Linked DNA regions of Homo sapiens. The protein of the gene in region 2 interacts with the protein of the main gene of each other region in a pairwise test. Each region holds a gene or a part of one and is shown on either strand. Other genes may lie near its edges.

Region 1 (3,659 bases), on a different chromosome or scaffold from region 2:
CCCCAGGCTTTTTCCCTGGCATGCTCTTCTGCCTTGTTGATTTCCAACAGAGACGTAGGCAGCTAATATGCCAACAACTACAACACTTAATTTACACACCCACCTGTCCCCTTTTCAGCTGACAAAAAGTAATTATTTTTTACGAGTTGGGAAATATTAAATGCTGCTCCTTATTTAAAATACTAATTCTGGTGAAATGACCAGTTGCCACTTTATAACATACATCCTTTAAAAAAATAAAATAAAAACCTATATTATTTTCTTCTTAACTGCAATGTCAAGAAAATCTGAGATCCAGATGTCTAAATTCAAGTGGTAGAATATTGGGTTTTATGTGAAAGTGTATAATTACATTATATTCGTAATATATTTCACACACACTCTTTAATTACAAAGCTTTAATTAAAATATTTGTCTTTGTTTATTAAGGTTAATATTCCCACATGATTGGGAAATGCTAATTTTTATGATCTCCCATGGTTCTGCGTTTTACACTGATGTTGTATTAGTCTGTTTTGCATTGCTATAAAGGAATATCTGAGCTGGGCAATTTATAAAGAAAAGAAGTTTGTTTTGGCTTACGATACTGCAGACTGTACAAGAAGCATGGTGCCAGTATCTGCTTCTGATGAGGCCTCAGGAAGCTTACAATCATGGCAGAAGGAAAAAGGGAGCAAGTGTGTCACATGGCAAGACAGGAAGCAAGAGAGAGATACCAGTCTCTTTTAAACAACTAGTTCTGGCATGAAGTAATAGAGTGAGAACTCACTCACTGCCACAGGGAGGGCACCAAGCCATTCATAAGGGATCCACCCTCATGACCCAAACACCTCACACCAGGCCCCACCTGGAACACTGGTGATCACATTTCAACATGGGACTTAGAGGGGACAAACTTACCAACTATATCAGATGTCATCAAAATTTCTCAACACTAAAGTATCAGGTTGCCAAAATACTATGATTTATTTACCAGTGTTTCATACACATAAAGACCAAACTGCCAAAATGTTCTTCAGTGAGCTAGTTTTTGATTCTAGTTTGAGCTAGTTTGAGAGAAGGCTGGGCAACACAGCGAGACCTTTTCTCTATATTAAAAACAACAACAACAACAATGACAACAAAACCTTCCTTCTTAGGAACTATCATCAAAATAACTTCTCTTTCTTAAACCGTCTTTTCTTCAAAACTACCCAGAGATTTGCTGCTAACCATTTAAGTTTGGCTTCTTTCTTTCTTTTTTTAGACAGACTCTTGCTCTGTCTTTTTTCCTTTTTTTTTTTTTTTCCCTCGCTGTGTCATTGAGGCTAGAGGGCTGTGGTGTGATCTCAGCTCACTGCAACCTCAGCCTCCCAGGTTCAAGCGATTCTTGTGCCTCAGCCTCCCAAGTACCTGGGACTACAGGCATGTGCCATCATGCCTGGCTAATTTTTTGTATTGAGATGCGGTTTCACTGTGTTGCTCAGGCTGGTCTCAAATTCCTGGCCTCAACTGATCCCCACACCTCAGCCCCCCAAAATATTGGGATTGCAGGCATGAGCCACCACACACAGCCAGATTCTGATAGTCTTTAAAATAGAGGAGCATCATTCATGAACAGTCTGAATAGAGACCATATGAAAGTCAGTTTTAAACTAAGTACAGGCACGCCTCAGAGATATTGTGGGTCTGGTTCCAGGCCACCACACAATAAAGTGAATATTATAATAAAGTGAGTCACATGAATTTTTTGGTTTCCCAGTGCATATAAAAGTTAGGTTTACATTATAATGATCATCTAATGGAAGTCTATTAACTGAGCAATAGCATTATGTTTTAAAATATATATACGTATCTTAATTTTAAAATACTTTATTGCTAAAAAAATGCTGACAATCATCTGAGCCTTTACAACTTGTAATCTTTTTGCTGGTGGAGGATCTTGCCTCAACATTGATGGTGGCTGACTTAGGGTGGTGTTGCTGAAGGCTGGGGTGGCTGTGGCAGTTTTTTCAAATAAGACAGCAGTGAAGTTTGCCACATCAGTTGACTCTTCCTTTCACAAGAGATTTCTCTGTAGCATGCAATCCTGTTTGATAGCATTTACCCACAGTAGAACTTCTTTCAAAATTGGAGTCAATCCTATCAAACTCTACCACTGCTTACTCTACTAAGTACCTATAATATTCTGAATCCCGTGTTGTGATTTCAACAATATTCATGGCATCTTCACCAGAAATAGATTCCATCCCAAGAAACCACTTTCTTTGCTTATCCGTAAGAACCAGCTCCTCAGCCATCTACATTTTATCGTGAGATTGTAGCAATTCAGTCCCATCTTCCAGCTCCGCTTCTAGTTCTCTTGCTATTTCCACCACATCTGCAGTTCCTTCCTCTGATGCAGTCTTGAACCCTTCCACGTCATCCATGAGGGTTGGAATCAACTTCTTCCAGACTCCTGTTAATGTAGATATTTTGACCTCCTCCCATGAATCACAAATATTCTTAATGGCATCTAAAATGGTGCATCCTTTACAGAAGGTTTTCAGTTAACTTTGCCGAGATCCATCAGAGGAATCACTATCCATGGCAGCTATAGCCTTACAAAATGTATTTCTTAAATAATAAGTCTTGGAAGTCAGAATTACCCCCGATCCATGGGCTGCAGAATGGATGTTGTGTTAGCAGGCATGAAAACAACATTAATCTCCTTGTACATCTCCATCAGAGCTTTTGAGTGACCAGGTGCATTGTCAATGAGCAGTAACAGTTTGAAAGGAATCTTTTTCTGAGCAGTAGCTATCAACGGTGAGCTTAAAATATTCAGTAAACCATGCTATAAACAGATGTGCTGTTATTCAGGCTTTGTTGTTCCATTTGCAGAGCACAGGCAGAGTAGATTTAGCGTAAATCTGAGGGCCCTAGAATTTTCAGAATGGTAAATGAGCATTGGCTTCAACTTAAAGTCACTGGCTGCATTAGCCCCTAACAAGAGAATAAGCCTGTCCTTTGAAGTTTTGAAGCCAGGCATTGACTTCTCCTCTCTAGCTATTAAAGCCCTACATGGCATCTTCTTCCACTAGAAGGTTGTTTCATCTACATTGAAAATCTGTTGTTTGCTGTAGCCACCTTCATCAATGATCTTAGCTAGATCTTCTGGATAACTGGCTGCAGCTTCTACATCAGCACTCGCTGCTTCATCTTGCACTTTTATGTTACAGAGGTGGCTTCTTAAACCTCATGAACCAACCACTGCTAGCTTCCAACTTTTCCGGAGCTTCTTCACCTCTCTCAGCCTTCAAAGAATTAAAAATTAGGGCCTTTTACTGATTAGGCTTTGGCTTAAGGGAATGTTGTGGCTAGTTTGATCTTCTGTCCAGAACATAAGAACTTTCTCTCCATATTAACAATAAACCTCTTTTGCTTTCTTATCATTTATATGTTCAGAGAAGTAGCACTTTTAATTTCCTTCAAGAATTTTTCCTTTGCATTCACAATTTGGCTAACTGGTGCACATGGTCTAACTTTCAGCCTGCCTCAGCTTTCAACATGCCTTCCTCACTAAGCTTAATTGTTTCTAGCTTTTGATTTAAAGTGAAAGATGTGTGACTCTTCCTTTTGCTTAAACACTTACAAGCCATTGTAGGGTTAATAGTTGGCCTAATTTCAATGTAAATGTG
Region 2 (2,749 bases):
AAGTTAGGTATTAAATGTCAAACAACTAAATACTGATAAACAATCTGGATGACTACTTTAATAAAACTACACCCATCTGTTTAGGTTCAGGTGTGTTTGTTAGAAACAAAAGAAAAAAAGGCAGCTATAATACTAGACTGAGCCATATGAAATTTCTTACAGGTCAAAGACATATTAGCATTTTTATACGGCTCAACCTAACACTTTCTAGTTACACCTTGCTCAAAACAAGTGAAAGGAAGCTCTCTAGATTTATATGAGAGAGAAAGAATTTACTGTACAACAGCAGAAAATAAAGGAATTCTGCCTCCAAAGCATCTTTGGAAGACACCTAATTCAACTTCATGGAACTTTAAAAATGAAAATTAAATGTCTAGAGGAGAAAAGTATTTTGAAGACAATAACTAGGAATGTTAACTTTGTTTTAAACAAATGAATTCAGAAAAATCTTGATTGTCTCCCTTCCCCCTTGTATAAAATTACAGGTATCATAGCTATCATCTGTGATCTCAGGCCAAAAAACAATTATATCCTTATTTCTCTGAGTTCAGGCCCACGGTAAAGACATTAAACTTATACTTACCACTTCATGTTTTTCTAAATAAATGAATTTTAGAGACATCAACTTGCAAAGGAGCACATCAAACTTAATGTTACTCAAATTTTTCTTTAATAAAGACAAAGGATTTAACAATTTTTGCGCAACTATACTTAACTGACAAAGATGATTTGTTTAGGATCTTAAGGATAGCAAAGATATATGCTAAGAGGGTACCACCAGGAAAAAAGACAAATACATTCTATCACTAGAAAATGCTTCAAGACAAAAATATTAATTCAATAAGAAAATATTTCATTTTTTTTTTTTATCACAGAGACAATTAACTCATTTCTGTAATCCAGTTACGTGGCATACATTCCTTTTTCTAGTTTCTCATGCAAAAGTTTGGAAAGTTTTTCTCAAAACAGAGCAAGTTAGCGCTAATGGTTTCAAGTCAGGGCTGGGAGTCAGCCTAGAAGAGCATGCTCAGAAGGCCATTTACACTTACCTGACCCCAGCCTGATGCTCTCCCCCATCCAAAAGGGGTCAGTTAATTCCTATTACTAATGAATTATCTCTTATACTTACTCTATAGACATATAAATTACCACAAATGTGCCTATAAATTAACAAGATATCATTCAATGTGGAGGAGAGCAGCTGGAACCCAATGACACCCTGGAGGTATCTTGGTTACTCTTTTTAGAAAACAGAAAAAAACCTGCCTCATTCCAGGTAATACATAAAAATAACACTTTAACACAAAGTGTCATCCTGCCTGTATTCTTTCCCTAAAATGCTGTGTAAGGAACTCAGAATTAAATAAAATTAGGACATAAGAATTAACAAGTACACCTAAAACAGACAAGAAGTGTAAGTAAGGACTGCTTCCTGTAATCCTAAGCATATTGTTCCATGGGTAATTTTCAGAACATAAAAATACAATAAATACTATAATGGAAATATAGGGATTCATTTATTACTTTTTGGTTTACAAACAAAGGCACCCAATAATGCTTTTATTTCTTATAAAAGATTCTCAATTTACATTTAAAACAAACAAAAACCCACAAAACAATCCCAAGTTAATTCCTATAGACAACACAAAAAAGGGGGAAAAGGAAATTCTTTTCCCTGCTTTCAAGCTTTATTACACAGGTTCAAAAATGATTATTTTATGCCATCCTTAAGTCAAAGAACGTACTGCCAAGCTTCTCTGCACTAAGTCTTAGGACATGTTAATGTTGCCAAGTCAAATATAAATATAGTCTCAATGACATCACAATTTACAAATGCATATTCCAAGATTAAAACTGAATAGGGGGAAAAACCCCAAATGTTTTAGAATACAGTTTAATCAAATGAGTTAAGTGAAATAAGAAACATTTAATTTAGTAGGCTATCCTGTTAAATAAGAAGTTTGTGTAGGAAATATAATCAAACAGAACTAAAAATCACGTCTAGTAAATGACACAAATAATTTCTCAAATCTTTAAGTCTGACTTAAGTTCAAAGTCTAGCTGGTGGGGATTAACAATCTATATACTCTTTATACTAATCTTAGAACTTTAAATTCTAGAATGACAAACTAATTTATTCATTAGTTTTCTTTTGACAACAGAACTCTAAACACACAAAATTAATGCAGTGAGTGGCCTCAGCACCCTCCCAGTTAACATTTCTTTAAGCTAGATTACAAGAACAATAAAACCATTCAGAAGACATACACTCCCTATGCACTTCATAGGCCTGCCCAAGTTGTCCCCAACTCTTTTGCAAGACACACAGACAATTCATCTGATTCTAAGTCTATTCGGCAGAAGTATAAAAATCATACAAATGTTAGCATGTTTTCAACACATTATGGAAATACATTTGGAGAGATGGAGTACTCAATGTATATTATGTGGGCCACTTTAAATAAAAGGCATCATTATCTATTCCATTTTCAGACATTGTCATGGTCTCTTATACCTTTATATAAGGTATGGTCCTAGACCAGAGACTTTAGTATCATTCCAAAGAATATAGAGATATTTATATACATATTTCTTTTAAAATAATATTTAAAAGTTTTACTACAGAAAATCTGGCTTCAACATGGAAGCATTTTTCCTTTTCAAGATTATACACCTGCATGAAAGTAGGTGATTTCCTTTACATTTAGTTTTTCACAATAGCAAAATAAACTTTTTATACATTGCATTT

Evidence for each region. Proteins that work in one complex are often made in the same cells at the same time.
Region 1: the proteins of FAR1 (region 2) and DHRS4 come close enough for resonance energy transfer, tested with the Homo sapiens proteins (one large-scale study listed by BioGRID).

What each region holds. Positions count from the first base shown.
Region 1 is NC_000014.9:23,960,258-23,963,916, forward strand, and holds part of DHRS4 (dehydrogenase/reductase SDR family member 4), read left to right. Parts: intron 1-3,659. UniProt on the Homo sapiens protein: NADPH-dependent oxidoreductase which catalyzes the reduction of a variety of compounds bearing carbonyl groups including ketosteroids, alpha-dicarbonyl compounds, aldehydes, aromatic ketones and quinones.
Region 2 is NC_000011.10:13,730,245-13,732,993, reverse strand, and holds the end of FAR1 (fatty acyl-CoA reductase 1), read right to left. Parts: 3' UTR 648-2,749; downstream 1-647. UniProt on the Homo sapiens protein: Catalyzes the reduction of saturated and unsaturated C16 or C18 fatty acyl-CoA to fatty alcohols. It plays an essential role in the production of ether lipids/plasmalogens which synthesis requires fatty alcohols.